Linked DNA regions of Homo sapiens: region 1 is linked to region 2. A link means that fine-mapping ties the variant in region 2 to the expression of a gene that starts in the linked region. Tissue or cell type: whole blood. Region 2 holds a variant in brackets; the other region holds the start of a gene. All regions are shown on one strand. Distances are between the middles of the regions.

What was found. PIP is the estimated chance that this variant, and not a neighbour inherited with it, causes the effect. A credible set is the group of variants that fine-mapping cannot tell apart.
Region 1: it holds the start of UNC93B1, and the variant in region 2 is the best candidate, but not a certain one, in a credible set for the expression of UNC93B1 in whole blood (INTERVAL, PIP 0.61).

What each region holds. Positions count from the first base shown.
Region 1 is chr11:68,001,396-68,006,563 of GRCh38, reverse strand. UNC93B1 (unc-93B1 regulator of TLR signaling) reads left to right here and starts at 2,467. Exons shown (of 11, transcript NM_030930.4): 1 at 2,467-2,616; 2 at 2,766-2,907; 3 at 3,389-3,542. The coding sequence starts at 2,521. RefSeq lists enhancers at 1,424-1,966, 1,967-2,510, 3,415-3,464, 3,565-3,614, 3,715-3,914 and silencers at 2,345-2,644, 2,705-3,114.
Region 2 is chr11:67,971,977-67,977,295 of GRCh38, reverse strand. It overlaps the pseudogene OR7E1P. Among named protein-coding and RNA genes, the nearest start is that of UNC93B1, 29 kb to the left of the region's middle. RefSeq lists an enhancer at 4,731-5,231. The variant A/G (reference allele first, on the strand shown) is at 3,156.

The sequences.
Region 1 (5,168 bases), 29 kb before region 2:
AGGGAATCACGTGGGCTGCCCAGCACGCTCCTGTGTCAGTGCAATGCGGGGCAACAATATTCCAAGAGGTTGTTTCAGGGAGTTCCAGTTGAGAGCAATATTTATTCTCTTCTGCTTGCTTTTCTGCAAGGAACATCGATTATTTTCATAATGAGAACTGAAAGTAAAGGCTTATTATAGAGAAAAGCATTGGCAAACAGTGAGCACGGGGGGATCTGGCCACCCCTTCCTGGGGATGTGACTGTGCACTGTTGCAACCTGGATGGGTTGGTGGAGGTGCTGGCCCTGCTCAGATCTCTGTCCCGCAGGTCACCCTGGTGTGTTTATCTGGGCCACCCTATCAGCCTCTTAGATAGTCTCCAGGCTCCCCAAGAGCAGCTCCATAAACCACCTAAAAAAAAAAATCCTTTCTGGAGAGAGGAGGTGTATCAGTCAGGGTTTAGTGCCTCCAGGGCTGTTTTTTGTTTTTTTTGTTTTTTGTTTGTTTGTTTGTTTGAGAGGTCTCACTCTGTCACCCACGCTGGAATGCAGTGGCACAATCTCAGCTCACTGCAGCCTCATCCTCCTGGGCTCAAGCAATTCTCCCACCTCAGCCTCCTGAGTAGCTGGGGCTACAGGTGTCCACCATCACACCAGGCTAGTTTTTGTATTTTTTGTAGAGATGGGTTGGGGGGGGGGGTTTGTCTCACTTTGTTGAGGCTGGTCTTGAACTCCTGAGCTCAAGTGATCCTCCTTGGCCAGCCAAAGTGCTGGGATTGCAGGCGTGAGCCACAGCGCCCGACCCTCTCCAGGTGTTTTGAGTAGGAGACATTGAGTGCAGGGAATTGGTGGTACAGCACAGGTGATGGAAGAGCCCAGGATGGGCAACCATAGCAACCGCCACAACCCCCAGGCCCAGAGGAACAAGGGGAGGAAGAGATTGCACCAGGCCCCAGAAGTTTGGGGTCCCTCAGGGAAATTGAGAAGCTCGGGGGGCCCACTCCCAGCACTTTGGGGGCTAAGGCGGGTACATCACTTGAGGTCAGGAGTTCGAGACCAGCCTGGGCCAATATGGTGAAACCCCATCTCTACTAAAAATACAAAAATCAGCTGGGTGTAGGGGCACACGCCTGTAATTCCAGCTACTCACAAGGCTGAGTCAGGAGAATTGCACTTTCTCATCATACTGTGTAATGATGCTGGTGTCTGCCATCTGAGAACGGCCCCCGCCATAGCCATACTCTCCCACCTCCTCCCTGCCCCTGCGCCTCGGGCCCTGCCCTCTCTTCGGCTCCTTTCCTGTCTCCCACTTCCAGCCACCCACCTGCATGAATCCACCTGTCTGTTCCCCACATCTGCACTTGGGCATCGTCACCTGGAGAAAGTTCTACCTCCTGGAAGCCTGAAGCCACTGCAGATTCACGCCTCCCCCCACCTTCCCAGCAATCCTTGCGGGGTGGGAGGTGTTTGTCATCCAGTCACTCATGCACCCATCCAGTCACAAGTATTGATCACTCAGTAGGTGCCCAATGCCATCCTCTGCATTTGGGAGAGGATGTACCTAAAGAGCAGTGGGTGGAGGGGGGTGCACAGGGAGGGCATGGAAAACCAGAAGGGAAGTGAAGGGACTGCATTCTCTGCAGGGATGGTCTCTTGTTCTGAGAGCTGAGTGGGAAGGAAGCCACCTGGGAGGCGCAGCAGGAAGAGCATTCAAACCAGAAGGAACCCAGGGGAGAGAATCTGGATATTTTCAAAAGTGGCCCCGTGGCTCCAGCCAGGTCGGTGGTAGCCAGTGCTTTGGAGTGTCGGCCCCACCACAGGCTCCCGCTGCAGCCCGGGATCCAGTGCCCAGCAGGATGGGGGCAGGTGGCTCTGGGCCCCACTACATGGTTGTGGCAGGGTCCCCCATGTAGTTCAGTGGGGATCACAATCTCCACCTCCCAGGACCCACTCAAGCTCCCATTTGCACAGCCCAAACTGGAGCAGGATGGGGACATGGGAGGTGGGCTCTGGCTGTAGCGTCCGGTGGTGGGAGGTGGGGTCCAGGTGGTGACGCTACTGTCCCTGCAGTGCTCTTTGATGAGCTGTAACAGCAGGCTTGGAGGTGGGGCTGGGGACGACCCAGGCAACCCTGAGGGGAGCTTAAGGGAGCCAGGCAACCCTGGCACTTTTCCAAGGCTTTGCATTAACTCAATAGTTCCGCCATGGCCCCGGGGGTAGTGCCATGTATTTCTGTTTTACCGTCGAGGAAACGGAGGAAACCGAGGCACAAAGAAATGGAGTTAATTCCTAAAGTCACAGGGCCAGGAGGTGGCTGAGTGGGGATTCGAACTCACACCCCAGAGGGCACACACAGGCAGGCCCCTGCACACACGCGCGCGCGCGCGCGCACACACACATACACACACACGTGTCCTGGAGGAGGCGGCCCGCAGGGCGGGACAGGGCGGGGCGGGGGCAGGTCCCGGCCGCCGGGAGGAAGTGGCCGGGCGGTCGCAGGGACTCCGGGGCGACCGCCGCGAGTCCGCAGTAGTTCGGGCCATGGAGGCGGAGCCGCCGCTCTACCCGATGGCGGGGGCTGCGGGGCCGCAGGGCGACGAGGACCTGCTCGGGGTCCCGGACGGGCCCGAGGCCCCGGTGAGCGGGGACCCGGAGTGCGAGGCGCGGGCGTCCCCTGTGGGCCAGGGTCCCCCCGGCGGGGGCGGGGCGGGCCGGGGGGCGGCGGGCACCGGGGGACACGGGTTCGGGGCGCGATCGCGGGTGCGAGCGGCGTGCGTGGCTCGCAGCTGGACGAGCTGGTGGGCGCGTACCCCAACTACAACGAGGAGGAGGAGGAGCGCCGCTACTACCGCCGCAAGCGCCTGGGCGTGCTCAAGAACGTGCTGGCTGCCAGCGCCGGGGGCATGCTCACCTACGGCGTCTACCTGGGTAGGTGCCGCTCGGGGACCCGGGGCCGCCCCGCCCGCTCCCAGCCCGGCCCGGGAAACAGAAACCGCGGGCCGCCGCCTCCCGCCCGCTCTCACTTCCCCTCCGCTGCCCTCGCAGCTGCAGCCACGGCCCCCCGCGGCGGGGGTGGGGTTGGGGGGTCAAGTAGCGCAGCGTCCCCGGGTCCCAGCCAGAGCCTCGGTGTGGGTGGGGGACGGGGGTCCGGGCTCCCGGACAGACCTGCCACCGTCAGAATTGGAGGCCGGCGGAGCAAGGCGGGTGGGGGTCTGGGCTTAGCTGGCCAAGTGGCCGCGGGCTGGCAGAAGGCGTGGCGCAGCCCGGGAACCCCGCTGTCCTGAGGGGCGCTGTCAGCGGGAATGCCTTCGGTGATTGGAGCTCCCTGCGAGGCCTGCATGCCGTCTTCTGCTCGGTGGCGCCCAAAGCTAGGCTGCTCCCTGCACGCCGCTCTCTGTCCTGTCCCCAGGCCTCCTGCAGATGCAGCTGATCCTGCACTACGACGAGACCTACCGCGAGGTGAAGTATGGCAACATGGGGCTGCCCGACATCGACAGCAAAATGCTGATGGGCATCAACGTGACTCCCATCGCCGCCCTGCTCTACACACCTGTGCTCATCAGGTGGGCGCGGCTGCTCCTGTGGGATGCTGCGGTACTCCCATTTCGGAGGGGTACAGAGGCCGGCGGGCCAGGAGGTGTCCATCTGCCGGGGTGTTTGTGGGGCGAGGGAACAAGGGAGAGGTTTTTTTCTACCCGGAAGCCTGAGAGTGAAGGGGGTGAAACTCGGATTTGGGGAAGGAAACAGGAACTTTGCCTCAGGGCACATTTGGTTTCCAGCAACAGATTCACACGGGCTGAGCTCCCTCCCAGCTTGCCTGGGCCTCACGTGGCACCCTCCTCGTGGCCTCCTTGGAGGCCTCCCAGAGCCACTGTGGCCTTCAGGGTTGGGGCTGTAGAGTTAGGGGTTTCTGATCGGTCAGCAAAGTCCAGGCACCCATGCCTGGCCCAGTCGCTGTGACTGGTGCTGAGGGGGTGTTTCTCACAGACAGGCATGGCTGGGCAGGTGCCCCAGAGCTCTCCCCCAGATCTGAGCCCTGGAGGTATGTGGTTCAGCCTCCCCATCACCGGTCCACAGTGCCCTCCCTGATGGGACCTGGAGACCAGTGGACAAATTAGGTGAATTTGAGCTCCCTCATCTTTAAAACAAACAAACAAACAAAACAACAAGAGAAAACTCCATTTAAACAAAAATTTGAAAATTTAAAACATCTCCCGTTGCACAGGCAGGATTAGAATAACTGAAATCATAAAAAAGAAACCCCATCTAAGCCCTCCAGGAAATCGGCTACCCATGCTGTCCCACCAGCATGCATGGATTACATTCACATCCTTGTCCCCAGAGCACGTGTGTGGACGTGCCCGTGTGTGTGTGTGTGTGTGTGTGTGTGTGTGTGTGTATGCAAGCGGGCTATGTTTGCTTTTGCTTGCTTACTTTTTTTTTTTTGAGACAGATACTTGCTCTGTCACCTAGACTGCAGTGCAGTGGTGTGATCTCGGCTCACTGCAACCTCTGCCTCCCAGGCTCAAGCGATTCTCCTACTTCAGCACCCTGAGTAGCTGGGATTACAGGCGCCTGCCACCCGGTTAATTTTTGTACTTTTAGTAGAGATGGGGTTTCACTATGTTGACCAGGCTGGTCTTAAACTCCTGACCTCAAGTGATTCTCCTGCCTTGGCCTCCCAAAGTGCTGGGATTACAGGCATGAGCCACAGTGCCCAGAGCTTGCTTCCTTCTTTTCACTGAGCATATCTTAGCCTACTCTACAGCCTTCACAGTTACGACTTTGCAATGGTAGCATCTTCTGCAGATACGGTGGCACTGAACAGTGGCTTGGAATTGGACACTGCAGTTCCTTCTGTGCTTACATCTGTTTCCTTGTTTTTTTTTTTTAAATTATGTGTTTATTTATTTTATTATTATTATTATTTGAGACAGAGTCTCACTCTGTCACCCAGGTTAGAGTGCAGTGGCACGAACACAGCTCACTGCCTCCTCAACCCCCACACACTGGGCTCAAGCAATCCTCCCACCTCAGCCTCCCGAGTAGCTGGGCCTACAGGCGCACGCCATCACATCTGGCTGATTTTTAAAGTATTTGTAGCGATGGGGAGTTGCTATGTTGCTCAGGCCAGTCTCAAATTCACCCGCCCCAGCCCCACAAAGTGTTGGGATTACAGGTGTGAGCCA
Region 2 (5,319 bases):
CCCCCTGCGATATTGGGAGTAATATCATCCTCTCCACCAAGGAAATGACAAACAAGGTCATGGGGGGTGAACTCCCCCTGAGATATTGGGAGTCATGTCATCCTCCCCAAACCTGGATGTTAGCAACGAGATCACAGAGGGGGTGTACACACCCTGCGATATTGGAAGTAATATGATCCTCTCCCCACCTGGATATGGGGAAAGATATCACAGAGCGGGTATACATTTCCTACGCTGTTGGGAGTAATATCATTCTTTTCCTTTCTGGATATTAGGAAGAATATCACAAGGGTGCTGTACAATTATTTCAATATTGGGAGTACTATCATCTTCTATTTTCCTGGATATTGGGCCCAATAACACAAAAAGGTGTACAACCCCTGCTATATTGGGAATAATAGCATACTCTCCTTCCCTGGATGTTAGAAAACAATATCATCAGGTCTGAACACCCCTGCGATAATGGGAGTAATATTGACTCTTTCACAGGCCATTTGGTACAATATCACAGGGGGTGTTTACAGACAGGGGTGGTGTACACCCCCTGTGATATTGGGAGTAACATCATTCTCTCCACCTACTGACAATAAGAACAATATCCCGGAGGGAGGTGGTACACCCCCAGTGATATTGGGAATAATGTCATCCTCTCCTTCCCTGGATATTAGGAACAATATCACAACGGGGTGTACACCTTCCGTGATATTGGAAGCAATATCATCCTCTCCCCCGCTGGATATTAGAAAAAAAATCACTCACGGTGTACACCCACTGTGATATGAGGAATAATATCTTCCTAGAGTATTATGAATAATTTCACAGTCTGCACACACATGGTGTACACTCACTGTGATATTAGGAGTAATATCTACCTAGTAGAAAACAAATAACATCGCAGGGTGCACACCCATTTTGATATTAGCTGTAATATTTTTCTAAGTTGTTACAAATAAGATCACAGGGTGTACAAACATGGTGTACACTCACTGTGATATCAGGAGTCGTATCTCTGTAATATATTATGAATAATATCACAGGGTGTACACCCACTGTATTATTGGGAGTAATATCTCTGTAGGATATTACAATTAAGATCACAGGGTGTACAGCCACTGTGATATTAGGAGAAATATCTTTCTAGGATATTACAAATAATATCACAGGGTGTACGCCGACTCTGCTGTCAGGTGCAATATCTCCCTAGGCTGTCAAAAATCCTATCACAGGGTTTCCAATCTCTGCCTTCCAGGTTCTAAGGGATTCTCCTGCTTCAGCCTCCCGAGTAGCTAGGGTTACCCGCCACCACACCCGGCTAATGTTTTTTTATTTTCACTGGAGACGGGGTTTCACCACGTTGGCCAGGCTGGTCTGGAACTCCTGACCTCAGGTGATCCATCAGCCTCGGCTACCCAAAGTGCTGGGATTACAGGTGTGAGCCATGGTGCTGGGCCAAGAGTTATAGATTCAATTCATTTGGAAACACAGCTCCCATCTTTGAGCGTGCATGTACTTTTATGAAGAAGTGATGTCAGAAAACCGAAGGATGATAATAAATATGAAAAGTAACAGGCATGTGAAAATCTTTCGATTGAGAACTATAAGGTTCGATGTCGTTTTCAGATAATGGGGTCCTAGCTCTTGTGTCGTCCTTTTACATATTCTACATCAATGGAAGTTGTAGCACGGGGTCAGAATAAAGTAGAGTGCATTTCACGGCTTCTTAATTTCTTTCAATTAGACTGAGATCTTTTTCTTCAAGAGAAAGGACATTGTCATTGCATTGTATTTTTTCTGAAAAGAGTAGGCCGTATTTTACTGAGATCACGGATTTGTTATATATAACGTTTTGGTCTCTGATATTCTTCAGTGGATTTTCTCTAAAGTAGTATGTACAGAAAGCCTTGTATAGCAAAAAAGTAAATCACGTAATAATTCTGAGATTTTTTGGAATTGTCACAACTGAGAAACATTGCTGGCGGTGTATGGTCCGCAAGTGTGAAGATGTTCCTTGTGAATTGCTTGCATCCAGCATTAAGGGCTGGTTTTTATCTGCTATTTTTCCAATCCTCTTTCCTTCTCAAGGTGTCCAAGACACACAGAGCCACGGAATCTCACAGGTGTCTGAGAATTCCTCCTCCTGGGACTCTCAGAGGACCCAGAACTGCAGCCTATCCTCGCTTTGCTGTCCCTGTCCCTGTCCATGTATCTGGTCACGGTGCTGAGGAACCTGCTCAGCATCCTGGCTGTCTGCTCTGACTCCCCCCTCCACACCCCCAGGTACTTCTTCCTCTCCAACCTGTGCTGGGCTGACATCGGTTTCACCTCCGCCACGGTTCCCAAGATGATTGTGGACATGCAGTCGCATAGCAGAGTCACGTCTCATGCGGGCTGTCTGACGCAGATGTCTTTCTTGGTCCTTTTTGCATGTATAGAAGGCATGCTCCTGACTGTGATGGCCTATGACTGCTTTGTAGCCATCTGTCGCCCTCTGCACTACCCAGTCATCGTGAATCCTCACCTCTGTGTCTTCGTTTTGGTGTCCTTTTTCCTTAGCCTGTTGGATTCCCAGCTGCACAGTTGGATTGTGTTACAATTCACCATCGTCTAGAATTTGGAAATCTCTAATTTTGTCTGTGACCCCTCTCAACTTCTCAAACTTGCCTGTTCTGACAGCGTCATCAATAGCATATTCATATATTTCGATAGTACTATGTTTGGTTTTCTTCCCATTTCAGGGATCCTATGGTCTTACTATAAAATCATCCCCTCCATTCTAAGGATTTCATCGTCAGATGGGAAGTATAAAGCCTTCTCCACCTGTGGCTCTCACCTAGCCGTTGTTTGCTGATTTTATGGAACAGGCATTGGCATGTACCTGACTTCAGCTGTGTCACAACCCCCCAGGAATGGTGTGGTGGCATCAGTGATGTATGCTGTGGTCACCCCCATGCTGAACCTTTTCATCTACAGCCTGAGAAACAGGAACATACAAAGTGCCCTGTGGAGGCTGCACAGCACAACAGTCGAATCTCATGATTTGTTCCATCCTTTCTCTTGTGTGGGTGAGAAAGGGCAACCACATTAAATCTCTACATCTGCAAATCCTGCCCCTTAGTCACATTCTTTCTGTGGCTTGATGGCTTTTATTCCTTTCC[A/G]CATTTCCTTTGTGAATATTGCTTTCTTCGCTATGCCTTTCACTGGAATGGGTGAGGATTCTGGGACCCTTTGTTTAGCAGAAACCTCATGACAGAATCCTCTATACCTAGGTGGCCTCTTTTAGTTTCTGAGCAATAACCCTGTCATCCAGGTGGAATCACAACCATCTTTTTATATACACGAAGTCCTCACTTCCTTTTGGAATTCCCTGAAAACTGACTTTATGGAAACAATGTACAGGAGGTCCTCCAACACCATCAGTTGTTCAAAGATGTGTAGTTATACTGTTGATGAAAAATAAGTGGTTTCACTATACATAATTTTGCTTAAAGGTGAAGTTTCCAAGAGACTTTCAAAGATGTTAAGTGAGGACATGCTGTACATCAAATTCATATCCTCTTCCACAGTCCACGTGGAATATCTTTATAAACTGCTTCTAGAGAATCTATTTAGGCAGGTTCTGTGTAGAGATCCATGTCGCCATTCCTCAATCTTGGCTTTGAGTCAAATCACCTGGGGAGCTTACAAATGATGAGGCCTGGGTCTCAATACCTGAGATTCTGATTTCCTTGCACCTGTGTGAGTATGTGGATTTTTTTTTTTTTCTTTTAAAGCACCAGAGGTGGTTCCAATGACGAAGTTTTTAGAGGCATCAAGCTCCAATGAGTAAGAACAGAAATTAATTGTAATATGATTTCTTCAAATATTATCTTCAAATGCATTGTCCATCAACACCATACAAATGTTTATTATGTTGTTGTTTCTTACCATTTCGCATTTTCTATTTCTTTCTTTTCCTTATTTTTTGAGTCAGATTTTCACTCTTGTTGCCCAGGCTGGAGTTCAATGGCACGGTCTCGGCTCACTGCAGCCTCTGCCTCCCGTATTCGAGCAATTCTCCTGTCTCAGCCTTCCAAGTACCTGGGATTACAGGCATGCGCTACCATGCCTGGCTAATTTTTTTTTTTTTTTATATTGTTAATAGAGACAGTGTTTCTCCATTTTGGTCAGGCTGGTCTTGAACTCCCGACCTCAGGTGATCCGCCCGCTTCCGCCTCCCAAAGTGCTGGGATTACAGGCATGAGCGACTGCGCCCAGCCACCACTTAGCATTTACATTTTACATTTGTTGAAGTTGTAGATTTATACACACATTGATTGCTGCTTTGTTATACACTTGCATATACATAAGATAGGAAATAGAAAAGAATAAAATGGACACAGTATCCCTGAGGTTTCACATTCTGAGACATTTTAAAAATATTTGCTCTTCAGAAATTTGTTTCAATGAAGAAACTGTGGTATACACACCCAGTGAAGTATTATTCAGCCGAAAAAGGAAGAAACTCCTCTCCGCTGCAGACAAAATGGATGAGATTGCAGGTCTGTATATTAAATGAAAGAAGCCAGGCACAGAATGACAAATATTTCATGTCCTCACTTCTATGTAAGAAGAAAAAAGGAAACCTTGGCCAGGTGTTGTGGCTCAGGCCTGTAATCCCAGCACTCTAGGAGGCCGAGTCGCACGGATCACTTGAGTCCAGGAGTTCGAGATCAGCTTGGCCAACATGGTGAAACCCTGTCTCTACGGAAAACACAAACAATGAGCCGGGCGTGGTGACGCGTGCCTGTAGTCTCAGCTACTCAGAGGGCTGAGGCCCAAGAAGCGCTTGAACTTGGGAGGTGGAGCTTGCAGTGAGCCCTGATTGTGCCTGTGTACTCCAACCTGGGTAACAGAAAGAGACTCCATCACACACCTACACACAAAAGGAATCTCAGGAAGGTGGAAAGTATAAAGGTGATCAGCAGACGCTAGGAAGAAAAGGGGTGCGATAGGGAATGAAGACAAGTGGATAATTGGGTCCCAAAATACAGAAAGATGGAATAAGTGAGTTCCAGTGTTTCATAGCACAGTATGAAAATTTTACTTCACAAGAATTGCTTGCATATTTCCAGATGCTTTGGTAAGAAACTTCCTAACTTTCTCATTATGCTGGTTTTTAAGCTCTTCTCTTTCTGCTCTTGAAATCATGCTGGTTTTTTGTTTTTGTTTTGAGATGGAGTTTCGCTCTTGTTGCCCAGGCTGTAGTGTCATGGTGCAATGTTGGCTCACCGCAACCTCTGCCTCCTGGGTTCAAGCGATTCTCCTGCCTCCACCTCCCGA